Linked DNA regions of Homo sapiens. The protein of the gene in region 2 interacts with the protein of the main gene of each other region in a biochemical or structural test. Each region holds a gene or a part of one and is shown on either strand. Other genes may lie near its edges.

Region 1 (5,971 bases), on a different chromosome or scaffold from region 2:
AAATGCCTCACTCCCTCAGCTGCAAGGAGAGACTTCTCCTTTTTATTCGTTTCTAAAATGTGCCTAATCAATACGGTGGAACTCAGCATACCAAAACTGTACGTGAGGATGATGGGGAAAAGGGGGTAAGGGGGTGTTCACTGACAGCCTTATCTGGGCACATCCCCTGGGACAGGACAAGCAGGCCAAGGACCTAGGAAGGAGCACAGGAGGCAGATGGAAGAGGCCTGAGGGAACCTGTGCTTGTTTGCCAGTGTGAGATGCCCACGCAACTTCCTGTCTTCACTTCCTCTTACCAGCACCTACAGGACTTGGGCTGCTTCAGGCTGAACGCTGGGAGACCACTTCCTGTGCTGACACACAGAGCTCCCATCTCCATGAAGACCGCACAGCGCGTGTAAGCCAGCCCAGCTGACCTAAAGCGACATGAGACTACTAGAAAGAAACGACACCCTTCCCCAAGCCCCCACAGCTACTCCAACCCAAACAACAACCAAGCCAGTTTAATGGTAGGAATTTGTATTTTTTGCCTTTGTTCAGAATACATGACATTGGTAAATATGCCACATGCCTTTGGTGGAAGTACAACTGTTGTTATTACTCTATACAAGTATGAGATCAGGGTTAGGAAAAAAAGACAAAGAGGTGATGACAGACACACAGTGGAAACCCCACATCGTCTCATGGCAAACCGAAGAACGGGATGTGGGAAGCTCAGCTTCATTTGACTGCAAAGTCCCAGGGTTTTGTTGCACATTTGCTCATGCACATGGGTGGTGGGAGGAAAGGGGGATAGCAGAGACACACAGAAGAGGGTACAGGGTGGGTGAGAAAGAAAGTAGAAGGGCTAATACCCCCAAAGAACAAGGCCAACTACACCTGGTGAGCCTCAGAGGGACAGAAACCCAGGAATGATTCCTGTGATAGGGCTGGGAGAGCCAAGAGGACGGATTCGCTCCAGGCTTGGGACACATCGAGGACAGTGGTGGTTCTTCTCCAGCGGTGACCCCCTGCATTAGGCAAGGAGGAGCCCAGAGGAGAGTGGAGACCTTCGAGGGGGGCCGTTGGGAGGGTACTGACTGCTTTCTTCCAGCTCTTCAGTCCCGCCCTTGGGCAGGACGAAGGGAATGTGGGAAACAAGGGCGAAAGGAAAGGAAGGATGGTTTTGAGCAATGAAATGCTGCTGCATGGAAAGTGGGCATCCAGACCCTGCCCAGCATGGCCTCAGCCTCTTCCTGTTCGTGGACCGAGGGAAGAAGGAATAAAGGGCCATGGGCATTCTCCGCTCTGTTCCCAGCCTGCCCTCCTCCCCTTGCACCTGGGCTTATCCCACATTAATAGCCCATCCTGAAGCTCAGCAATTGCCCCGAAGATAGGCTGAGCAGATCCCATCCTCAGGTTCCACTGTCTATACACACAAACCATGCAAAGAGGAGGAAGAGAAAGGAGGCAAAGTAGAATTCAGACAGGAAAGGGTGGTTCAAAGGGGAATATACTACAGGAAGAACAGAGAGGCGGCTCTCAAGGAGAGGGCCCCATGACAGCACAGCAATACACAAGCACACCTGACACAGGCTGGCACGCCTCCCCCCAAGGTGGGGCTGGTGGGTCTACATGACTTCTCTGCATCCTGAGGATCGGCCGGGCCCCAGGAAGAACCACTTGCCTCATCCCTGTCTTTGGCAAGTGCACGGGTGGTGTGGAGGAAAGGATTCCATGGGTGTCCAAAGATCTCACACTGCTAACACCCTCACGCTCCTTCATCAACAGGAAGAGAGGAACAGGACCCTCTTTAACGAGGGCAAGGAGTGGCTTCCTCTGAGCTTGTTACTTTCAAATTAAGCACTTGACTCACTGTTTCTCTATAACTAACAGGCAATCTCTCTCTTTATGCCAACAATTAACTGGGAGCTAGGTTAAATTATTTGGCTAGATAAAACTACCAGCTAGATGGATTTATTTGGTGCCCTCATACAGAATGCTGTAGAAAATGTAAAGAAGAGAAAGCTCCTTCCAGCTAGAAGCACATGGGACTGCTTCTAGGATGGAAACAAGTCCTGCTATTTTCACAATCCCTAAGTGTTCTCCAGGCCTCTGGAGAACAAAGTAAAGTTGTAAGATCCCCAAAGACACGGAAAATCCTGGACGAACAGATTAGAAATAACTACAAAAAACAAGTTTTTACTTTCGAAAAGGGTACTGCACTGAAACCAAGTTGGACTTTGGTCCACCCCCAGGACCCTCTTCAGGCCTGGTCCAGGAAGGAAAGCTCCACATGACCAGGCAGTACTGAGTGAGCTGCCATCTTCCCAGCCCCTCCCTAGCTCCTACCAGTGGCCAGGTTTTCTAGAAGTCACCATGGGCACCGATACTCTTCTCCTCCCAAGTCTGGGCAGCTTCATGGGTACTTCGCCTCAGCCACTCCCCTCCCTGCCCCTTCCCTTGGCCTCCAACTCTTTGGGGCTTTGGGGGAACTTGAGAGTACAGAAAAAGCAGGCAGGGAGGAGGCGCCAGCTGTTGCTCTTCGGGTAATGACTTAGATTGTGCCACGAGCAGCATTTCTAGTGTTGAGGGACAGAGTGCAAATGAACGCAACGAAAAAGGAGGAATGGGTGATGGAGAAGCCTGGGCTGGAATGGAGGACGGTGGGTGGGGAAGTGTGTTGAGAGAGCAAACAGAGGGCAGAGGACATGAATGTGGATGGCAATGGACAACAGGGAAGGGGTGGTACATTCTCAAGTAAAAAAGTAGACTGGACACAGGAATCAGGAAGTCCCAGACGGAAAAGAGAAAGAGACAGGAGAAAACAAGAGGGTGAATTACACCAAGTTACCAGACATTCAGGTCTCTCCATTGTTAAGTGCCCCATCCCCATGGTCTCCCTCCAACCCAAGCCAGTGACACACAGCATAGCCCCACTTCCTCAGAACAGGAGGCGCCATCTCCCTGCAATGCGTTGCAGGGGGAAGGCTTGTCCATCAAAGAAATCCCTTGTCTCTGCCCTTCCCCCGTCCCGAACCAGGTGACGATCCCATAGCAGCGGTCTCCATACCTCAGTCAGAGCAGCCCCACTCCCCAGGCAGGCAGGCAGGCAGGGAGAAGACTCCAGGACCTTCCCACCTCTTCACCCCACCAGCAACTTCAGCGATACTTACTTACAATAACTACCACGATGATGGCACAGATGGCTCCCAGCATGATCATCATCTGAGGAAACATGGACAAAAAATGAGCCCTTGGATTTCAGGAATGAGGAAAAGAGCCACATCTCTAGTGGGAAACAGAATTCCTTCCATCCTTGGGACAATGGAAAAAACCACCCATCACCCAGGAGACCTGCAGGCCTCTTAGAGAGGCCCTACCCTTCTGCTTCCCAGGGGATCATAACCACAGTATGTCTGTAGCTTTTCAGATTCATCACAGGACCTGCATTGAGCTCCTTTTTGCTTAGTTCCTGGTGTCTTGGGGCTTTAGAAGGCATTCCAATAGAGATACAGACTCTGGATATTTAACCAATTAGTTCAATTTTCACTGTGAAGTGTTCAGCTCATTCTCAAAAGTTGCAGTTATTTAAAAATATATATTTCAATCTGAGAAAGCTGATTTAAAAGAAAAAGAAAAAAGTATATATATATATAAATGTATATATATGTATATATATATATAAATGTATATATATGTATATATATATATAAATGTATATATATGTATATATACATATGTGTATATATAGTGTGTGTGTGTGTGTGTGTGTGTGTATGTATATATGCCTGAGCCATTGTGCTGATGTTGGGTGTGTCTGAGGATGAGACAGGTGAAATTTTTTGCAGGCAACTCCTTTGGGGTAAAGCTCCTTAACTAACCATTCCAAACTCCTCAGGGTATCACTTTTTCCCTGATAGCGGTTCTAAATACTCTAGCCTACCCTGGTGGCCAATTCTGGGTAATGCAATCTCAAGAGGAGGCTTTCCAGATTTCCTCCCAAGCGTTATGCTGGTCAGAGAGATCCTGCACCATTAGAGGGAAGAAATGTAGAAGCTGAGGGTTTTCTTGCCTTCTACCAGTGGAAGCCCAGGAAAAGATGGAGGAGGGGACAAGAAAATTCACCTTGCAGTTTTTCCACCAATACTTCCTCTTTAGCTTGGCAGCACTGCTCTCAAATTGTGATGCTCCTGCCTGCAAGGCATCAGCTCGGTCATCCAGCTCTGACAGCTTCTGGTCCCTCTCCAGGACCTTGTCCACGTTCACACGTATGATGTCCACCACCTGAGGAGGGCACAGAAACAAAGCAGCTAAGCTTCCTGCCAGAGACAGAGGAAAGGACAACAACCAGAGAATCACAAGTCTGGCCCTGTGCAACTCTAAAGGGTGCTTTGCCTCTCAGGGCCTTTGACTATTCTCCTACGAAAAAAGGAGAAAAGATAAGAAGTTCCCTTTTGTTTCCAAACTCCTAGATTTGGAAACTTTCAGAGAAACAGCTATCTACCTACCTCCTCCACTTGTGCCTGGGTTTGCTGTAGTCGTCTGTTACTGGTCATGTTAGGAGGAGGGCCAGGGGGACCCCCACCTGGGGCAGTCCCTTCTGTCCCTTCAGCAGGTGGCTGAGCTGGAGCAGACCTGTGGAAAGACATGTGCAGAGTACACAAAGTGACCAAGACAAGAAAGGAGCTGGGCGTGGTAGCACACACCTGTAGTCCCAGCTACTCAAGAGGCTGAAGTGGGAGGAGCGCTTGAGCCCAGGAGTTCGAGGCCAGCCTGGGCATCATAGCGAGACCCCATCTCTAAAAAAACAGACAAAAAGAAAGGACTCACATGCATCCTCACCCCAAACCACTTAAACAATTATGATTAGGCTATACAAAACTAGAATGGATTCTTGCTCCTTGGCAATCTGAAGTAGGGAGACAAACCATAGAGGCAAGAAGTAAAAGATGAAAGACTCTGCAACAACATTTGGATGGGGTTCAGGGACATCCAGGATGGCATCAAGACATCTCATCTGGGGCTATCCTTTGACTCAACTCAAACAAGTCCTCTGCCATGATGGCTACAGGGACATATGGCCTAGCCTTGTCCTAAATGGCATTTCCCCGCTGATATGGTTTGGCTGTGTCCCCACCCAAATCTCAACTTCAATTGTATCACCCAGAATTCCCACATGTTGTGGGAGGGACTCAGGGGAGGTAACTGAATCATGGGGCCCATCTTTCCGGTGCTATTCTGGTGATAGTGACGAAGTCTCATGAGATCTGATGGGTTTATCAGTGGTTTCTGCTTTTGCTTCTTCCACATTTTCTCTTGCTGCTGCCATGTAAGAAGTGCCTTTCACCTGCCGCCATGATTCTGAGGCCTTCCCAGCCATGTGGAACTGTAAGTCCAATTAAACCTCTTTTTCTTCCCAGTCTTGGGTATGTCTTTATCAGCAGCATGAAAACAGACTAATACAGTAAATTGGTACCAGTAGAGTGGGGTGTTGCTGAAAAGATACCCAAAAATGTGGAAGCGACTTTGGAACTGGGTTAACAGGGAGAGGATGGAACAGTTTGGAGGGCTCAGAAGAAGACAGGAAAATGCGGGAAAGTTTGGAACCTCCTAGAGACTTGTTGAATGGCTTTGACAAAAATGCTGTTAGTGATATGAACAATAAGGTCCAGGCTGAGGTGGTCTCAGATGGAGATGAGGAACTTGTTGGGAACTGAAGCAAAGGTGACTCTTGTTATGTTTTGGCAAAAAGACTGGCAGCATTTTGCCCCTGCCCTAGAAATTTGTGGAACTTTGAACTTGAGAGAGATAATTTAGGGTATCTGGCAGAAGAAAAGACGCAGTACTAAAGAAAAAAACCATTTTTTTGAGAAGAAATTCAAGGCAGCTGCAGAAATTTGCATAAGTAGCAAGGAACCTAGTGTTAGCCCCTAAGACCATGGGGAAAATGTCTCCAGGCCATGTCAGAAGCCTTCATAGCAGCCCCTCC
Region 2 (7,030 bases):
TTCCATAGTTCTGTTCTTTGATAAAGATGTGCTCCTTAGGGTGCTCAATAGATTTCTTTCAAAAGCCACTGTTTACCTCTGGCAGGGAGGGGAGAAGTGGAAACAGTGAGAATGACATAGATGGGGCAGGGCTGGAAAATAGGAAGAGTGAACCAGGGAAGTAGGTGAGAGAGACTTTATTCCTGGTTTCTACTCTTTTTATGCTAGTGTTCTGTATGAGATTTTATTTGAGAGATGATTCTGCTGCTGGAAAAGTAAAACAAAAAAGCTGGGCTGGGCGGGTGGCTCACACCGGTAATCCCAGCACTTTGGGAGGCTGAGGCGTGTGGATCACCTGAGGTCAGGAGTTCCAGACCAGCCTGGCCAACGTGGTGAAACCCCGTCTCTATTAAAAATACAAAAATTATCCGGGTGTGGTGGTGGGTGCCTGTAATCCCAGCTACTTGGGAGGCTGAGGCAGGAGAATCACTTGAACCCAGGAGGCAGAGGTTGCAGTGAGCGAGATCACGCCATTGTACTCCAGCCTGGGTGACGAGCAAAACATCGTCTCAAAAAAAAAAAAAAAACAAAACCCTTGAAGACCCACTGGCTTACAGAATTTCAGACCCTATACACAGGCCCACCATAATTTTTTGCCAGGTTCACTTTCTTGCTCCTGTCTGTTCACTATCCCTTTTAATTCCCCTAGCCCTGTGGTTCTTAATTCACACTGCATGTGAATCACCTAGTGAGCTTTAAAAAGTTACAGTTGACCAGGCTTGCCCCAGACCTAATGAGTCACAATCACAGGAGTATTAAAAGTTCTGTAGATGTTTGTGATGTGTAGCTGAAACTGAGAATTACTGTTTATATAGGACTAATTAGCATGAGACCAAAAAAACCCAACTCCAGAAAATCCAGTAATGCAAATAAAACTGTGCCATTAGGTGTACTCTTTTAGTTAGTGTTTATTTATAAGCACAATAAAGGAATCATGGGAGAAAATATTGCCTTGTACTGAAAAAAGTAAAAAACTGTCCTGCCATTTATCAGATTGGTTAACAGACAGAGATAAAGACAACTGTGTAGTTAACAGGTATTAGTATTTTTCCCAAGGTTCACATTGCACACAGTGTCATAACAACCTCCTGCTTGGAGTGACTTCTGCTTTCTTCTGAGAAACCTTCTGCTCTAAAGACATAGTGCTGTGTGAAGCCATATCAGCAAGAATGAAGCAGCCTACTCTTGACTGGAGGATCTAAGTCATTTTGACACAGAGAAGCACCCTCATTTTCCAGTCCAGGTGCAGAGCTTCAGATAAGGGTTTCCTATGTACATTTCTCATCTAAATTTGTAGTTTCTGAAGAAACAGTATTCTTTCTCTGCTTTGCAGTCGAGACCTGGTGCTACCACTTTACACACAGCCCTCTGCTTTGCTTTGAGCATATAAAAACACTGTTACTTAAATTTCACGCTAAACTGTTTCCTTCCCCCAAATTCTGTGATACCATATCTCTGTTTACGGCAAGAACACCCTTTTGTGCCTCTGCTGTTCCGGTTCCTTAGTTGCAGTGTGTCAGTAAACCCAAATGGCAGACTACAGGTCTGGGTAGTTTTTGGCTGATTGGGCTAGGACGGATGTAACTGATTTTAAATACCATGGGCCACCTTGGAAGTACTCTTCTTTAATTATATTTTTAGTGGGATTTAAAAAAAGGTAAATATAGCCTATCTAACTTTTGCTTTTTAGGAATACATTTCTCAGCTCCAGTTTTAAAAAATCAGTGTTATTGAGGTATAATTTATATCCCATGGAGACACCCACTGTGAGTGTACAATTCATTGATACATAGAACTTTGTAACCATCACTATAGTTCAGTTTTAGAATGTCTATCACCCCCGGAAAGTTTCCTTATGTGGTTAGCAGTTAATCCCCTTTTCCGTCCCCAGCCATAGGCAACCACTAATCTACTTTCCGTCCCTATAGATTTTTAGCTCCAGTAGTCTCGTTAGTATGCTTGTTTTTAAAAACCTTTTGTGTGTGTGTTTTTTTTCTAGGATGAAGGTTTAAGGCTCAGAAAGGTAGCACATTCGGATAAACCTGGATCAACCTCAACTGCATCCTTCAGAGATAATGTCACCAGTCCTCTTCCTTCACTTCTTGTTGTAATTGCAGCCATTTTCATTGGATTCTTTCTAGGGAAATTCATCTTGTAGAGTGAAGCATGCAGAGTGCTGTTTCTTTTTTTTTTTTTCTCTTGACCAGAAAAAGATTTGTTTACCTACCATTTCATTGGTAGTATGGCCCACGGTGACCATTTTTTTGTGTGTACAGCGTCATATAGGCTTTGCCTTTAATGATCTCTTACGGTTAGAAAACACAATAAAAACAAACTGTTCGGCTACTGGACAGGTTGTATATTACCAGATCATCACTAGCAGATGTCAGTTGCACATTGAGTCCTTTATGAAATTCATAAATAAAGAATTGTTCTTTCTTTGTGGTTTTAATAAGAGTTCAAGAATTGTTCAGAGTCTTGTAAATGTTATTTTAATAATCCCTTTAAATTTTATCTGTTGCTGTTACCTCTTGAAATATGATTTATTTAGATTGCTAATCCCACTCATTCAGGAAATGCCAAGAGGTATTCCTTGGGGAAATGGTGCCTCTTACAGTGTAAATTTTTCCTCCTTTACCTTTGCTAATATCATGGCAGAATTTTTCTTATCCCTTGTGAGGCAGTTGTTGACTGAGTTTTTCATCCTTACAATCCTGTCCCATGGTATTTAACATAAAAAAAAATAAAACTGTTAACAGATTCTTGCTCGATAGCTTGTTTGTGTCTGTCGTGTTATTAGAGGGAACTCCACTATATATGGTCACTTGAAATTATGATGCAAAGGTTTCTCTTGCATTGAAACCCTCTTGGATATTACAGTATTTTTAATTGAAAGTCCTAATTCTGTTAAGGAAAGGAGTTGATTAAATTTTAAGGTACCACTGGTATTTTGGGAGATTATAATCAGTTTGTTTTCAAGATAATAGAAAATAAGGTCCATGAGAATAGAAGTTATGTGATTTCAGTGAGTTGATGTGTACAGCATGGCTGTGCTCCATCTGATTTACCCCATTCTTAAGTTCTGAGAGTATGTTCTCAAGGAAGATTTAACTCTCTTTGGTTTTAAATTACTTTTTAACCAGCCTAATAAATAAGTCTTACTACTTTTCATAATATTTCATAATAGTTAAAAGTAGGTGTTTTTTTCGTGCTCAATTTGGCACTCAAAATAATGTTCATTATGGAAGTTTGGTAATACTGAGCAAGCCTGTGGAATTTTCTTTATGAAAAATGATTTTAGCCTTTGCAAATGTTAACCATGTGAAACACATTTTCAGTATAAGTATGCGTTACAGGGTTTGATACTTTCCTGCACTTAGGTTTGTCCTATTCTTCATTTATTCATACTAGGATAGAAAATTTTGGAATCAGAAAATAGATCCAGTGTTTAGCTACATACAATCTAGTACAAGTGAATTTTTATTCTTAAACATAGGTGTGTTGGCTCTTTTTTTAAAAGATGCGCTCTACCTGAAAAGGAAATTGGATTTTAGAACTGGATGTGGTGCAGTGAAGTATTTTAGGCCCAGGTCTGTGTACACATTTTATAGAAGAATGAAGTACTCTGAAGTATTTTGGTTGCCTTTTCATTTCAACTGTGTTTTGAATTTGTCAGATCACACATATATTGTGTTATTGGGCGCTGTGGTATCTTTTATAAAACCTCTTGCTTGTGTGCAAAAGTTCCTAAAAGGAAACACAAGTAATGCCTATCCATTACTAGCATGCTATGCTGCATGCTTTACTGCCATTGCTGTATGCTTTACTGTCTTTGTAAAAATCCCCCTCTCCCCTTTTCTGGTAACTGGAAAAGCATGCTAAAAATAGTCTTATATTTTCACCCCATAAATGCAGAATCAGTAATTCCTTGGCTTAAAGCTCTTATATAATCAATATTATTGGTGGTAAATACCAAGTTTGGTATCTCATAGCTATCTTTTTTTAAAGAAATTAAGTTCTTGAAAATTTAGCCAAATCCCGTTTTATGGGAATGCTCTTTAGAATTCATTTTGTTCAGCCCCTTTGTTCTATGGTTGAGAAATCTGAGGCCTTACGAAGGTTAAGAGAACTTTCCCCGTGTCTCACAGGTAGGTAGAGGCAGAGCTGGAACTAGATATCTGGTCTGTTGACTCTAGCTCAGTGTCTTCTGGTAACTGTTGAAAATTGTCTTAGTTTGAGAGATGGCTGAAATAATGAACATAAAATGCTATTTATAATAACAAGTATATGTGAAATTTCTTATTGTAAGACTACTACCGGCTTACTGTTGAATAGTTTGGTTATAGTGTTTAGGCTAGAAATGCCTCCCACATTGGTAATAAACATTACAAAATACAATGTATTTTTAGGTAGGCATTTTATAAAATGCATTATGCCATGGTTGCTTTTGAGATAGATTGTAGTCTGGGTAGCATCTTTAAAATGTATGTGGGCTTAACTGTTGTTCATATCAGGAGATGCTCTGATTGTATAGGTGAGACTCTGTTTCTGTTATTTTTAATTGCTGTATGAAATGTGATCAGATTATTTTACTACCAACAGTTATAGTTTGAAAGTCCAACTGTATTAATTGACTGATAATATGATAATATAGAGATTAAATTGTTTGTCTTCATTCCTTATATGTTTAGAAGTTTTTGCTTTGTCTGCCTGCTTACTTGTATATGTAAGCATGAGGGAAATACACTGTTGCTAATACTGAAATTACAATCAAGTAACTAAGGCCTTGAGTTCATATGTGACACTGAATGCACTAGCTTCCTTCGTTCTATAACTAATGTACCTTAACTTCCCCCATTCTTATATTTACAAGAAGCTAAGTCATTATGTTCTGAGTGTGTGGTATGTTCCCTTAAAAAAAAATGACACTTGGAAGAAAAATGTATGAAATTCAGAAATTCCGATCAAAGAAAAGTAATTCTTTCTTTTTTTTTTTGAGACAGAGTCTTGCTTTGTTGCCCAGGCTGGAGGGCAGTGGTGTGATCTCACCTCACTGCAGCTTCCGCCTCCTGGGTTCAAGTGATTCTCATGGCTCAGCCGCCTGAGTAGCTGGGATTACAGGTGTGAGCCAACAAGCCCGGCTAATTTTTGTATTTTTAGTAGAGACAAGGTTTCACCATGTTGGTCAGGCTGGGCTCAAACTCCTGAATCCGCCTGCCTCGGCCTCCCAAAGTGCTGGGATTACAGGTGTGAGCTGCCGCACCCAGCCAAGAAAAATAATACTCTTAAATACTTAGATGTTCACCTAAAGTTGATATTATTTGGTATGGGAATTACTTTTGAACTGTAATCTTTCAGATTACACCACTTTGAAAACAAGTTTTAACAGTAGGGTAAAAATATAGTTTTTGAGGGTATTCCCAACTTGTGATCTTCTACCACTTTAGAGACATTCAAGTAATAGTTTTCTTAGAGCTTTGCACATTCCTATTCACTGAGATTTTAAAAATTTCACCTTTATTCGAGGGAAGGATCAATGCTTATTACCATTTGGAAAAACGAAGATCAGAAGGTAAATGATCTTTATTTTCTAGCTTTAAAGGGAAATTAAACCATTCATGAATAAACTTTAAAAATGTGAAGTGTCCTTTTCCTTTTCACAATACAAAAAAAATTTCAACAGATTGTGTGGTTTGTGCATTTATATCCTGTTAAGCATTAATAGCTAATCACTGGGACTTGAATTCTGATGGCAGATAGTCTCTTGCTTAGTGAGATGGAGTTAACTATTTTTTAGTAGGAAGTGAGAACAGCTGATTTTCATGCCACGTTTCATAGCCCCACTTTTGGTAGACTACCACCACGCTTCTTCGCGTAAGCAGTGGCATCTTGGGAATGAATGCCCAGCCGCTCGTGGGTTGGTGCAAAGAAGTATAAACATATATCACTAAGGAAAAAGAAAGTTTGTCTTGCCCTTCTGACACAGTGTGTGCACTTCAGGCAATTTTTGGAAAATATAAAAAATTCCAAATTCTGCCTTTCAGCAGCATCAATTGCTAGGAACATTTCATTCATTTCCCTGTAATATTAATGTTCTTTAAGCATAATCACTAATTATAAGTTGTATCCTATTTTTTTCCAGCTTAATTTCTGTGGTTTATTGAAAACCAAGTATAAATGTGACTAAAAGCATTTTGCTTTGTTTTTATAGTTAACTTTCTTAAGGTTATGGACATTTTATAATGTAACATTTGATTGGCCTGGCCTCTTGACAATTCCCTTCTAGTTATGCATATCCTCCTGTTGCCACATTTCTTGTTTTAAAACTCAGTTTCTTGTTTTCCAGTTGTTGCTATGTATAACACCCATCTTGAAAGAGAGTATATAGGAAGTTATTCAGATAACTTTTGTAGTAGTGATATTCAACTATAGCAGTACCTTAACTCATGATGAGCTTAGGAACATAAAAGATAATTGTTGCTTGAATAGCACCCCCAGAGATACTGACCTAATTGGTCTGGGGTGGAGATCTGGCATGGTAGTTTTTTTCAAGCTCCAATCATCGGCCAGACAGTTGCTTTATGTAGGTTTTTAAATGCCAAAGGCAGATATGAAGTAGATTTAATTAAGACTTGACTTCAGCAATACAGGGGAACTTAAAATACTTATTTTTCTTTAAACTGCAGGAGTCACTGTTAGGTATTGCTTAAAAAAAATTGCATAAAAGCTTTGCTTGTCAAGTTAGGATTGCTGGAATACCACTAAAGATTTTTGACTTGTGAATAAATGAGCTGTCATCGCAAAAAGGCGATTTGAGAAATGTGGGCTTCAGTATTAATTGCCATTTTGCTGACACCCAGTGTACCTACCTACCTGAGAAATTTATTTTGTCCATCATGTATTTCTCAAAGCAAAAGGTGGTTTTCAAGTATAATGTCGTTTTCAACATGCTTATTACTTAGTTTTACGTCAGCTCATTTCATCATCATTG
Region 3 (7,030 bases), on a different chromosome or scaffold from region 2:
ACAATCTCGGCTCATTGCAACCTCTGCCTCCCAGGTTCTGGCAATTCTCCTGCCTCAGCCTCCTGAGTAGCTGGGACTACAGGTGTGCGCCACCACTCCCAGATAATTTTTGTATTTTTTGTAGAGATGGGGTTTCACCACTTTGGCCAGGATGGTCTCGATCTCTTGACCTCATAATCTGCCCACCTTGGCCTCCCAAAAAAGTTCTATTTTTTTTTTAAACTAAGGAGTATATAGTTGTGCTAAATTTGAGGAACAAAATGATATTAGCAGCCTTTGATTGCAGAAAAGAAATGTCACCTTCCACTTTCTAAGGACAAGGACAGCATTTCAGTTATTTCTAGAACTTTATGTGTTAAAAAATAATAAGCAGTATGAAATTTATTAAATATTTCTGACCAGGTTCTAAAGTAATGCAGGTTGCAGGTTTGTTGAATTTCTTAGAATAGCTGAAAATTTCCAGGATCTTACTTTTATATATATATATATATATATATATATATATATATATCTATATCTATATATATATGTATATATATATATGGATATATATATATATGGATATATATATACATATATATATATATGAATGATAGTTTTTAACTTGCTATAATGTTATTGGTTTTTATTAGTAAATTTTGGAGGTGCTTTCAAAAATTGCAGCCAACAATAGAATTAAAAAATATACATTGATTTAATCTTCAGCTAACAGTTACAATGCCTTTCTCTTCAGATATCTACTGCAAATCATCTTGTGGTTCTTTGAAACATAGTTTCTACAGAAACTTACTACTTAATGCTATACATGAAAATTTAAGAAAATGCCTTAGAGCTATATATGGAGTGATACAGACTTAAAGGTCTCAGAGATGTTTGTTTGCAGTGCCTGCTCAGCATGTTCTAGCAACACAAAAATGAAATGTTAAACATCACTTACAACTTTAGAAAGGTTTGCTTTTTATCTTCACAGGATCGCACATGTGACTTACCCTGCCTGGCTCCATGAAGGAAGTGTCAAGTGTATGACATAATGCTAGTATTTTTGAGACTACAGTAAACCCCACTCCCCCTCCAAACCTGGAGCCTCAAGCTGTAATTAGGATGCCATGATGAGAAAGTTGTGTTTTGTCAGTTTTGGCCCTGAGCGGGTGGCAGCATAATGCCACGCTGCTGTAGAAGCAGGGTGCAGCCGTGCAAAACTCAAATGTTTGTTGTTGTTTATTGTTTACAGAGCTGCTTTTTTTTCTCTAGAAGACTAATGAAGGGATGGTGAGTACATTTGCACTGGCTGACTGATTGTAGCAAGCTTAACTTTCAATTGATTGAATGAGGTGAAATAAATCAACAAACTGCCAAGAGAAAATATTCACTAAGATTTTGCCCTTGACATGAAAACATGTGTTCTGAGGTCTCAAACAAAAGTGCCTTCTGTTTATACTGACAATTTATGTTTATAAATTATTCACAGTTGCATAATATCTACACAATTTAAGCATTGAATTATTGCATTTTATATTATACTTATATACAGAATTGAACTACATGATTAATTTTATGGGGTAAAAAATCATTATGATAGACATAAATTCACTTATGAAAGTATATGTGAGAAAATGTAACATCATATACACTTTAATTACGGAAATTAAAAACATAAATTTTGTGAACACTCTAGGGTCGTAAAACACAATACCCTTACCCACAGGGAACTGGCAGATTCATTGCTAGAAGTAAAATTAATATGGCAGAAAAGGACATAAATTTAAAATGAAAAGTTAAAGGATAGAAAATCAACTAAACACTAAATAAAATAAATGAAACATTCATGATGTTCTGAAGGTAGTTTGTTTCAAGCCATGATAAATATTAAAGTAAAGGTTCTTGAAATGAAATATGAAAACCACCTTCCTCAAGAAACTAGACATGGAAAATGTTTCATTGACTGTGAGGCAGCATGATAAGTTTATTTCTATCTAAAGTAAGGATGATGATTAGAGGGCATAGGGAGGTAAAAGGGGCAGAATCACAGTGAAAGGAAAAAATTAAGTGTCATAGGAAATAAAAGAATTTTAGGCATGGACATGCTACCACTTAATGGGTGAAGAAATTAAAGTTCAATTAGCAATTGAGGGCAATGTGGAACTGAGGTGTTCTGAGCCTCAGACAGAGCCCCTTTTATGATCCCATATGACCTCCAATTCTGTTTAGATGTTTTTATCTCCTGGAAGGTATTTTCAGCCTAGGAGGCCTCTGTATTAAGATTGGCTACAGAAAACTTAATGAAGTATGTACAAGTCTGAAAAAATAGTTTGGTTTTGTGCTTGTTTAAGTGGCTGTGAGGATAGAAAGATCTAGGGATCAGGACAGGAAAGGAGGGAAAGCAAAGGAAGAAAGGTAGCATGTGGCGTTAACAGACATGGGGGAAGGTAAGAGAAACCCACAGAAGAAGAGATAGAAGGGAAAATGGCAAGCAGGCAAGCAGAAAGGCTCAGTGAGTTTCAAAGGCACTGTTGATCAGGGCTGATGCTCTGCAGCTTGCATTTATTATGGGCTTATTCTGAAGGCTTGATTAACTTTTGGAACACTATTCACAGCTCTTCAACTGCTCAGGAACTTATGCCTTTGAGCCTGCACTCTTTATCAGGTAACAAGCAGAACATTCTGCCCAGGGAGAATAAAAAATCTTTTAACCATGGTAACAATAATAAGAGCAGATCATTTTTAAGTCTTAAGAAAATCAAATCAACAGGGAATTTTCTCACCCTTATTTTCTCTATCCCTGCTATGAAGAAAGGGCAGTGAATTTCAGTTTGTCTTTTATTGCGGGACTTGTAATCAACACTGGATCTCTTATAATAGAAAGTTCTTGATCAGTGAAGAAGATATTTTGAAAGTTAAGTCTTATGACCTCTCTTCTCTTGAGACACACACCCTACAAAAAGGAAAATTCACTATACACAATGCACATGAAATTATTTAAGACAAATAGTGACCTTACCAGTGACTATGATATAGCATTTCCTTTTTTAATGACTTTTTCAAAATAGCAAGTCACACCATGCCTTTGCCACAAACAAATGAGATATTTGTGTCATTCTGGAGTTAGTTCTCTTCCTGGAAAACCTCTTATCTGATATTATAATCAGTTAAAAAATGATTTATCTTCTTCATGTTAGTATAAAACATGGTGTTCAAAAAGAGTACATTTATTTTATTTTTATTTGTATTCAAATTCAAAATGCATCAGCTCACAGTTTATTTATGTGGACAATTCAATGATTGATTGTTGAGATGACAGTGTACCTACAACTAAGTTATTTAGTGGAGACTCCACATTCAGATTCATCACTGGAATTGCCCCATCTCTAATATTTTCGGCTGTTTTTGCCTCATCCTGATAGTGTTGCTCAATTTTTAACATATATATATAGTTCATCATCACCTGAATATAAAGTTAGGACATGAACATCAGTGGCGCCAAAGACAGATGCTATGAGGTGCCTGTTATGTGTGGGTTGAGGGCTCAGTAGAGAAAAGTTTGGACCCACAATCCCAGGCCTGCCTTTATAATTCAATGGGAAAGACAGAACATATATGTAAAGAGAAAACTTAAAAGCTAGAATTTATTTAATAGACACTAATATAGCTTTAATCTTAGTTTTCTTTCAGTGCTTGGAAACCAAACTTTAGGGAGAAATATGAATATTCTTACTCTATTCAGATATACCTCCTTGTAATGAGCATTTCACATAAACAATCTCATCTAATCATCATAATACTGTACATGAAATAGATACTATTATCTTTATTTTGTAGATTAGAAAATTCAAGCCCAGAGAATTTAAGTTGCTTAGTCAATCATTATAGAGCTTCTTATTTTTGTAAAGATAAGCATTTTTGTCATGTGTGATGAAAATGTGTGTGTATATATATATATATGCTTAAAATATTCCTGTAACTCTGTAGTTGAAAAAACTCCTGCTGCAAGTATATTTATTGGCCACATTTAAAGTACTTCTTATATAGTCCATCTACATTTTTCATTACCTTGACTTATATTCATTCAAGAGAATCTTTCGCCTCCAGAACAATAAATAAATTTAACTTGCAGGATGGAGAAGCCAGAGGCATGCAGAAATTGGTGTGTATCCTAGAAGAGAGTTCTAATTATAAGGACCTCTTAAATCTAATAGTTTTTCCCTTTAGTATAAGCTGTTGACTGTGTGAAACATGATGTTTTACATTAAAGGTGGTATTTTGGATGAATTGCTTGAAGCTCTATGATTTTCTGCAAAAACATTATAGGGGAAGATAACTAAGAAGATGCTTGCTGCTGCAGATCAGAATAACAGATCAATAAGAGGGACTACAAGAGCAGTAATGCTTTAAAGAATTAGCACACAGGAGAAAAGAGCCATGAAGCAGAATACACACACACACACACAACACACACACACACAACACACACACACATTCTGATGTATATTATATACACATAACATATAAACACAGATGCATTTTAAATAATTGATCCCAATAACTCCATTTTTGCATTTTCTGGCCACATATATTACTTTGGTCAGCTCTCTTGTGGAAAATAATTAAAGAATGGATTAACTGTTTAATATTTATTAAACTCCTACACTGTATAAGCACTGTGCTTGGTGATAGGAATGTAATAATAGAGAAGATGTTCTTTGTCCTCAAGAGTTCCCAGCATACTATGGGAAAGGTATGTTGCAATGGTATGGTGGAAGTTTCATGATCCCAGAGTGGGAATATTATGGAGAGCTTTCTCTAGAAGGTGAGGTTTGAGCTGAGTCTTGAAAAGCAAGTACTAGTTAGTCAGAAGGAAACAAGAAAAATGTTTCTAGAACACAGTATGGAAAGGCCAGGAGCTTAAAAGGGAATGTTGTGTGCAGTCTGGGATTGCTGGAATATAATGATGAGGGAAAGATGAAAAGTGAAGGTGGAGAGGAGGCTGGACCTACTAGGACTAACTAGGCTTTAAAGTGCTGGTAGGACTTCAAAAATAAAATTCCAATAATGATGACATTTTGCAGAGTTTAAAGCATGTGAGTGGCAAGGTCAAATTTGTATCTTAGCAGAGCATTCTAATAGCTATGTGGAGAATGGTTTTTAGGTGGACAAAACCCGAGTTTGGGATCCAATTTAAGGCTGTATTAGAAGTGTAGGCAAGGGCTGGGCACGGTGGCTCATGCCTGTAATCCCAGCACTTTGGGAGGCCAAGGCCAGCGGATTGCTTAAGCTTGGGAATTTCAGACCAGCCTGGGAAATATAGTGAGACCCTGTCTCTAAAAAAAAAAAAAAATACAAAAATTAGCCAGGCATGGTGGTGCAAGCCTGTAGTCCTAGCTTCTTGGAAAGCTGAGGTGAGAGGATCACTTGAGCCCAGGAGGCAGAAGTTGCAGTGAGCTGAGATTGTGCAGTGAGCTGAGATTGTGCCTGGGCTACAGAGTGAGACTCTATTTCAAAAAAAAAAAAAAAGAAAGAAAGGAAAAGAAGTCTAGGCAAGTAAGTGATGCTGAGAGTTCGAACCAGCATTGTGGTAATGGGAACCTTGGTAACAGTGTTGGAGGCCTTAAGCAATGGTTAGGAGCTATAATTGGTAAGACTTGGTGCTTATTTGGATGTGGATGGATGGATCAGGATTTCACAGAGTTTTAGTGAGGGTGACCGGGTATGGGGTGGGGAAGGCCGTAAATCTGAGACGGAGAATGATCAGGAACTGGTTGGGCAGACTGGCACCTTGGTCAGTTTAGCTTAAGATGTCTGTGGTTTATCTAGAAGGAGTTGATCAGGGTGAGGTGCAGCGGCTCACCCTGTAATCCCAGTACTTTGGAACGCTGAGGCAGGTGGATTGCTTGCACCTGGGAGGTCAAGACCAGCCTGGGCAACATGGAGAAACCCCATCTCTACAAAAAATATAAGAATTAGCCAGGTGTGGTGGCACGTCCCAGGTACCTGGGAGGCTGAGGTGGGAGGATCATCTGAGCCCAAGAGATCAAGGCTGCAGTGAGCTGTGATGGTGCCACTGCATTCCAGCCTGTGTCACAGAGAGAGACCTGTCTCAAAAAAAAGAGTTGATCAAGCACATGGATCTTTTAGTCTGCAGCTTGAGAAAGAGGTCTCTCATGACATGTTTGGGAGTTGCCAGCCTATAGGTATATATCACTGAATACACAACCTCTTCTGTGTAGTACACTGTGTTGTCTTTTCCCCCTTTCCTATATCCTAAAGCAAAGACACATATCTCCAAAAGTATGTAGACATTAATATTGTACCTTCTGGTTGTATTCAGTCGTTAATATTGTACCTTCTGGTTGTTACAACAGAATGATCCCATAGAACAGAAACACTCTAGGAAAATGCAAGTAACCAAGTGATTGTTGCTTTCTTCCAGCTTTGTCAGTGGAAATGCCTGCCCCAGAGGGATATTGCTTCAGTTGACCTCATTTTTTAAGGACCCTGGCTCTGCGGCTTTGTCCAGTTCAAAATGGCAGAAAAGGCTCCCCCGGGCTTAAACAGGAAGACTTCAAGGTCGACACTTTCCCTTCCTCCAGAGCCTGTGGACATTATCCGGAGCAAAACATGCTCCAGGAGAGTTAAGATCAATGTGGGGGGCCTCAACCACGAAGTCCTGTGGAGAACGCTGGACAGGCTGCCCAGGACGCGCCTGGGGAAGCTTCGAGACTGCAACACACACGAGAGCCTCCTGGAAGTGTGCGACGACTATAATCTGAACGAGAACGAGTATTTCTTTGATCGGCATCCAGGAGCCTTCACTTCCATTTTAAATTTCTACCGGACCGGGAAACTCCATATGATGGAAGAAATGTGTGCACTTTCGTTTGGCCAAGAACTTGATTACTGGGGGATTGATGAGATCTACTTGGAGTCCTGCTGCCAGGCCAGATATCATCAAAAAAAAGAACAAATGAACGAAGAACTGAGGCGAGAGGCAGAGACTATGCGAGAGCGAGAAGGAGAAGAGTTTGATAATACCTGC
Region 4 (7,030 bases), on a different chromosome or scaffold from region 2:
GGTACATGCCTGTAATCCCAGCTACTTGGGAGGCTGAGGCAGGAGAATCGCTTGAACCCAGGAGGTTGCAGTGAGCCAAGATCACACCACTGCACTCCAGCTTGGGCGATAGAGTGAGACTCTGTCTCAAAAAAAAAGAAGAAAGGCAAGTCACTGAGGCTGTAGAAAAGTTTTTGGCAGGGAGCTGGAAAGGAGTGGGGAATCTGGGATAGGCCAGCACAAGGAAGGAGGAAAAGCCTGTCCTCACCTTGAAGCTAAAGCCACTCTGGATGCGCCTCTGGATGCTCTCATGCTCAGCCAGCTGACCACAAAGCACCGCATACCTAGGGGGGAAGCAGCAAGCTCAGGGACAAGGGCTGAGTACCATCACTGCAAGGAATGGATGCCCCAACCACAGCCTAGTTGCATTGTCCCCTATCCCTGTACCCTCAACTAGAGCTGAAAATACCTAATTTTCATCTGTACGTAATCCCCATTCTTTACGGACCTCTGGCCCCAATTAGTATTCTTTAGTAGATAATGGTAGGCTTACAAGTCTCCAAAGTATTCTAGGTATAAAAAAAGCTGGGTTCACCACAGTAAATCTCTCTTACACAGTAAATCTCTCCTACACTCATAAGGAGTACAGCCACAGGCATTAATAAAAACTTGAAAAGCATGAAAACAATCAGCATAAAAGTATGAGACCTGACTATACTACTTATCTTCTGGGCAGACAAAAAAGTGGGTCTCATTAGCCTTTAAGCATACAGGTGTATCACTGGGACTTGGGAAGCAATTTCTTAGGATAGTCACATTGGGAGGGGATATTCTAGGAATTTCTGATGTTACTTGGAAACCAACAGAACCAGAGGAAGAAAGACCTCCTATATATGCCTTCTCCCCCACATCCCCCCTCCCAAAGGGAACCAGCCAGCCAGCTTCCCATCATCTGTCTTCAGAAACAAAGTCTTACTTCCCCATCCCCCCAGCATTGTTCCTAGCAGCACAGTTGACATTCGATGAGTAACCAGCCCAAGTTGCTTTTTCATGTATATGCTAAGTATCCGGGGGGTATCAGATACTTCTAGAGGCTCATTTCCATGTTTAATCCAAACAGCTGTTCCTCAGGAATAGCTGTTCATCCTTGGAAGCCCAGGGAAGCAGTGACACCCAAGAAACAGTTACCTGGCCTCTGAGAAGAACCCTTGCAGAGACAAAAGTTTCAGCAACAGATGGAGAAACACAGCCTCTCACTTAGCTCACAGTCTGAGGGTGGAGACATGGAAAGCAAGGGTGGCGGTGGGAAAGGAAAGGAACATTTTCACTAAAACTCAGGTGCTGGAACCAGACCCCAGGATATGAGTTAGCCGTGGCCCAGGTAAGCTGACAGAACTTTGCCTCACATGAGACCACAAAAAGGGCTGATGTTTTTGCAGCCTAATAAATTGACCACTAAACTTCTGGGGGGTGAGCTCACATCTACTTTTCCTCACATGAACCAAGCAAAGAAGCCAAAGTACCAGCAGCCAGGGATCACACGCAGGGGAAAGAAGAGCTTATGCAGGATAGGGGAGCTGCAGATTGTCCCAGCCTCCTGAGAGCCAAGAACTCCAGTTTTGTAGCTAGGATGACTCTTAACAAAGCTACTCATTTCTCCAAGCCCCATCAGAAAAAAAGCTTGTATTCCCCGCTTGCCTCATCCCTAAGCCACCTCCCCTACCAGAAACTTCCCTTGTCTCTGGCTAGGGGTAGACTGAGGCATGTGGAGATACAAGCCAGAACTCCCTCTCCTGGATCCTTTGGAAAATGCCTCTGTGGCCCAGGCAGAGAAAAGAAAGGGCTGTCCTCTGCTTTGGCCCTTGCTGGCTCTTCCCAGAACACTGCAGGGTGTTATTACCACAGGTGACAGTCAGCACTCTCATCCCCCTTCTCCAGAGCAGCCTCTGCTTCTTCTTTTCCTGTAGGACGAAGGTAGATCCAGAGTTGACATAGCTCTTATGCACACTTTCATAGGAAGGCTTGTGGGAAGAATGACTGCTTTAGCTCTCACCAATCCCTACCCAGCTTGGACTTGTTTGGAAATAGTTGTGAACTTGAGCAGAATGAAAGGCCGCAAAGAAGCCAGTCACAGTGGCTCACGCCTCTGTGCTGTGTAATCCCAGCACTTTGGGAGGCTGAGGCGGGTAGAGCGCCTGAGGTCAGGAGTCGGAGACCAGCCTGGCCAACACAGTGAAACCCCATCTCTACCAAAAATACAAAAATTAGCTGGGCGTGGTGGCAGGCGCCTGTAGTCCCAGCTACTCAAAAGGCTGAGGCAGGAGAATCGCTTGAACCCAGGAGGCAGAGGTTGCAGTGAGCCGAGATTGCACCACTGCACTCCAGACTAGGTGACAGAGCAAGACTGTCTCAGAAAAGGCTGCAAACGGCTTCTAAGGGAAGACTTCAGGGATGACTTCTGCTTCACCTTGGCTTCCCCATCTGTCATTAGAAACCCCAGTTACCTTCTTTTTATAATGCCCACCTGATGTGCTTGAAGCAGATTTTAGCATTTAAAATATAAAAGGATCCAGCCAGGCACGATGGCTTATGCCTGTAATCCTAGCACTTTGGAAGGCCGAGGTGGGTGGATCACTTGAGGCCAAGTGTTTGAGACAAGCCTGAGCAACATGGTGAAACCCTGCCTCTACTAAAAATATAAAATTAGCCAGGCATGTTGGCACATCCTGTAGTCCCAGCTCCCCAGGAGGCTGAGGCAGGAGAATCACTTGAACCTGGGAGGCAGAAGTTGCAACGAGCCAAGATTGCACCACTGCACTCCAGCCTGGGCGACGAACTCCACCTCAAAAAAAACAACAACAACGGATCCAACACAATCAGAAATTGTCCCCAACAGACCTTACTCTGGAGGGGCAGTGTCCATGAATCTCAAGTTGTATAAAATTTAAGTAAGTGGGGAGAGAGATCACAGCTTTGAAAAAATTCCCTAAAGGGGATGGGTACATTGGCTCACACCTGTAATCCTAGAACTTTGAGAGGCCAAGGAGAGGATAGCTTGGGACCAAGAGTTCAAGACCAATCTGGGCAACATAGGCAGACCCCATCTCTTTAAAAAAAAAAATTCTCAAAAGGATCCACGATCCAACAATATTAATTAGCTCTAGGCCAAAACTCTTTCACAAGAGCCACATGGACTGAGGTCTGACCAGAGATGACGTTCACTTAGTCTTACCCGAGTTTTCTAGGTTAGTGTTCTAACAAAGAAATGAAAGCCCATAAACATGAAAGTTCTGACAAGCGTCACTTAAGAGTATCGAGGCTGGAGCTTACGGACCACCAGATAAGGACCATCATGCCTATGCACTGGAGAAGACACTGCAACATAGGATTTTTTTTTTTTTTTTTTTTTTTTTTGAGACAAGAGTCTCACTCTGTCGTCCAGGCTGGAGTGCAATAGCACGATCTAGGCTCACCGCAACCTCCGCCTCCAGGTTCAAGTGATTCTCCTGCGTCAGCCTCCCGAGTAGCTGGGATTACAGGTGTGTGCCACCACACCTGGCTAATTTTTGTATTTTTAGTAGAGACAGTTTTGCCTTGTTGGCCAGGCTGGTCTCAAACTCCTGACCTCAGGTGATGCGCCCACCTCAGCCTCCCAAAGTGCTGTGATTACAGGTGCGAACCACCGTGCCCAGCCAAGAATTCTTTGAAGAAAACAAGTTTGGAAGGGAACATGGAGAAAATGGAACAAATGTAATGCATTGAGGTGGTAAACTGGCTAATCTGAAATGTTTTCCTTTTTTTATTTGAGACAGGGTCTCTCTCTGTTGCCCAGGCTGGAGTGCAGTGGTGCAATCTCAGTTCACTACAACCTCTGCCTCCTGGGCTGAAACAATCCTCCTGCTGGCATGTTCCACCACCATGCCTGGCTAATTTTTTAAGTTTTTTTTTTTTTTTTTGTAGAGACAAGGTCTCACTATATTGCCCAGGCTAGTCTCTAACTCCTGGGCTCAAGCAATCCTCCTGCCTTGGCCTCCCAAAGTGCTAGGATTATAGGCATGAGCCACCACACCTGGCCACAAATGCATTCTTAAGACAACTGATGCTGTGAAAGACTCTACCTCTCTTCCCAAAGAGAGGGACCACATGGCCCCACCAATGAGGGACGCTGCCTCTTTGGGGATTTCTCTCTGCCCTCTTCAAAGTACTGTCTCACTAGGAAAATAATAGCAAAGAATGAGACAACTAGTTCCTGCCAAGCTAGACAGACAGTGTTGTAGACAAGACATTGCCTGAGACCCCACAGAATGACTGCCTCCTGGTGGTCCAGCTCCTAGAGATACAATGAAATAAACTTTATACCCAGTAAGGATAATTCTTAAAGGCTGTGATCTCAGAGCAGAACCTTCAAAGACATTCCATAGTCATCTGACCTCCAGCAGGTAAAGCTTTGTCCATGGGTGCTAAGCTCAGGAGGCCAGACCAACCAAGTGCTGCCCTGCTAACCACTGCCTCCACTTCTGTCTTTGGGGTTCATGCTGGCTACTAGCACTAATAAGAGATGACCAATGATCAAGAGGGAAAGGAAAGGTTGTTGACATGAAGAGTCCAAAAATCAGCCCAAAAGCTGAGAATCCTCATCTGAAATTTAGGAGGGAAAACAAACTTTTGGAGAGAAAAAGTAATCATAAATAAGCATCTTTTGTTAAAACTTCCAGGAATTTTTCTGAGGGTCTACAGAGACATCCTACTCAATTGGTCTGTTCTTTCTCCATTGACAGAATTCTACAAATGTTTAGAATGTTAACTTTGAGGTACTGTTTGAGTATACATTATCAAGGATTCAATAATATTTGTAAGGCTGTACTTACAATAGAAAGGTAGACAAATCCATTTTAGACAGTTAACTGGCCAGGCACAGTGGTTTATGCCTGTTATCCCAGCACTTTGGGAGGCCTAGGTGGGTGAATCAGTTGAGGCCAGGAGTTCAAGACCAGCCTAGCCAACATGGCGAAACCCCATCTCTGCTAAAAATACAAGACTTAGTCGGGTATGATGGCATGTGCTTGTAATCCCAGCTACTGGGGAGGCTGAGGCAGGAGAATTGCTTGAGCCCAGGAGGTGGAGGTTGCAGTCAGCCGAGATCAGGCCACTGAACTCCAGCCTGGGCAACAGAGAAAGACTGTTTAAAAAAAAAAAAAAAATAGATATTAACTGAACCACAGACCTAGAAACCCATTACCCATTGATGGTACCTGACTCAGTGTGTGGAGTTCAGCAGGACACATCAGTCTCTAAAGTCCAAGCATTCTCTGACCTCATGACAGATAAGGCCAAGCCCTGAGCCTGGCACAGGTCAGATGCACCCTATCCTCCAGGGTGGAGCCTTTGCCAACAGACTTGCCAAGTGGATTCCAGAGTCTTCTAAGCTAGCTATATTCTTAGAACACCTGCCCCACCAGCTCAGAAAACTGAAACCAGATTTCTAAGCAGCAGCAAAAAACCTCAGGTTAAGAAAAAAGGTTTTGCCCTCTGTGGCTAGAGTGAGAAAAACGAATAACATTGATAGGATACAACTACTCCTAGAAACACATGCACGTGTGTTACTAATCAGCATGATATACAGATAAGCAAAGACTGCTCTCTTCTTCCAGAGGAGAAAGCAAGGGTCTTTGGGAGCCAGAGTTTGTCCCTAGTGGGTAACTGAGCCACAACTGCTGACAGCATCTTGGTGGTTCCCCGGGTCCCCAGGCAGATGGGCCAGCCCCACCCCTGAATCAGTCAGTCACCTTCCCACAGGAAGCTGTCAGCACTTACCATCTAGGGCATATGACTTCTTCTCGCTCACCTCCTCAGTGAGCTCACACATGTCACTGTAGGCTCGGGCCAGGCGCCAGAGAAAGTCCTGCCGGCTTCCATACTGCAGACCAGACAGAAACGGGTGAGGCCCCTTTTTCCTCAACTGTGGAGAATGGGGGCCTTGGCCTTCCCCCACACCCTAGGTTTGAATTTCCAAGCTAGTATGTTACAGTCATCAATATCAGGCCAGCTCCTACACGCAGCCTTCCCCCCAGTCATCCCTTCCCACGTGCAGTTAATGTATGACACATTCTCTGTCTAGCCAGTAGCTTGCACAATTACGGGGTGAGGGCATTCTGACCTCCTAGAACTGCTGGGAGGAAAGGTCAACTCCAAGATGTCATAAGGCACGAGAGGTCTTTTGCTGACACATGAAGAAAGTGTGAAAGGAAAAGGGAAACTTCTAACTTCTGGGGGGGGGGCATTTATACCTGGGTGGGCATATATTCTGTCAGTGAACCTGACAAGAGAATTATGGTTGAGTGACCTACACAGTTGTCGCTTGTAATGGGGCTGGCAGCTTGGACTCTGCCTCAAGGGAAATGAGGAGAAAAAAAAAATACAGTTCTTTCCACATTTCCCCCTAGAGGTGAGAGGTAGAGCTCTTTCTGCAGTAGCTCTACAGAAAGCAGAGAACTACACTCCCCCTCCCAAGAGGGGAGGCAGCTCTGGGGCAAGCAGTACACTGGCCCTAGGATCCACGCTGGGCCTCCTTGGAAGAGGATATGTGACCTGGGGGACAGATGCAAAACCAGCTGTCTCACCATTTCTCGTCCCATGTCACCTTGTAGGGGCAGTAACCACACGGGCCTTCATTCCCCAGGGGTCAGGAACAGAGAGATGGAGGGAGGGAGGGAAGGAGAAGGAGACAGGCAGCTGGAGCCTCACCACCAGCTTGTTGTTGAGCAGCAGCTGGAAGCCCTCCCGCTTGCCTTGCTCATCACCCCTGTGCAGCTCGTCGGCCTGCTGCAGGAGGGGCAGCACATCCTCCAAGCCTGAGGAACCTCCAGCCTCCAGGGCACTGGAGGCACCTGAAGCTGCCTCTTCCTCCAAGTCAAGAGAATCCTTTCTCCCCATCTTCACAGTCTCACAGCTCACTTCATCTTCCCCGTCCTCACTTTCTTTGTCAGAGTCCCGCTCATTGTCAGACTCCGCATTGGCTGTTGTGTAACTGGCAGAGAAATGTAAGGGACAA

The links.
Region 1: the proteins of VAPA (region 2) and VAMP1 form a complex in vitro, tested with the Homo sapiens proteins (one study listed by BioGRID).
Region 3: the proteins of VAPA (region 2) and KCNB2 interact in a test that uses a peptide from one of them, tested with the Homo sapiens proteins (one study listed by BioGRID).
Region 4: the proteins of VAPA (region 2) and RMDN3 interact in a test that uses a peptide from one of them, tested with the Homo sapiens proteins (one study listed by BioGRID).

Annotation. Positions count from the first base shown.
Region 1 is NC_000012.12:6,461,735-6,467,705, forward strand, and holds the end of VAMP1 (vesicle-associated membrane protein 1), read right to left. Parts: intron 5,371-5,971; exon of another isoform or gene 5,317-5,370; intron 4,618-5,316; coding exon 4,491-4,617; intron 4,267-4,490; coding exon 4,108-4,266; intron 3,208-4,107; coding exon 3,156-3,207; coding exon of another isoform or gene 3,142-3,155; exon of another isoform or gene 2,753-3,141; coding exon 2,736-2,752; 3' UTR 1,236-2,735; coding exon of another isoform or gene 1,225-1,235; 3' UTR 1,109-1,224; coding exon of another isoform or gene 1,098-1,108; 3' UTR 503-1,097; downstream 1-502. Other genes in the region: TAPBPL (tapasin-related protein isoform 1 precursor), read left to right, coding at 300-415. UniProt on the Homo sapiens protein: Involved in the targeting and/or fusion of transport vesicles to their target membrane.
Region 2 is NC_000018.10:9,952,015-9,959,044, forward strand, and holds part of VAPA (vesicle-associated membrane protein-associated protein A), read left to right. Parts: intron 1-2,038; coding exon 2,039-2,197; 3' UTR 2,198-7,030. UniProt on the Homo sapiens protein: Endoplasmic reticulum (ER)-anchored protein that mediates the formation of contact sites between the ER and endosomes via interaction with FFAT motif-containing proteins such as STARD3 or WDR44.
Region 3 is NC_000008.11:72,561,218-72,568,247, forward strand, and holds part of KCNB2 (potassium voltage-gated channel subfamily B member 2), read left to right. Parts: intron 1-6,424; 5' UTR 6,425-6,517; coding exon 6,518-7,030. UniProt on the Homo sapiens protein: Voltage-gated potassium channel that mediates transmembrane potassium transport in excitable membranes, primarily in the brain and smooth muscle cells.
Region 4 is NC_000015.10:40,738,254-40,745,283, forward strand, and holds part of RMDN3 (regulator of microtubule dynamics protein 3), read right to left. Parts: intron 7,007-7,030; coding exon 6,724-7,006; intron 5,975-6,723; coding exon of another isoform or gene 5,897-5,974; coding exon 5,794-5,896; intron 1,941-5,793; coding exon 1,880-1,940; intron 324-1,879; coding exon 248-323; intron 1-247.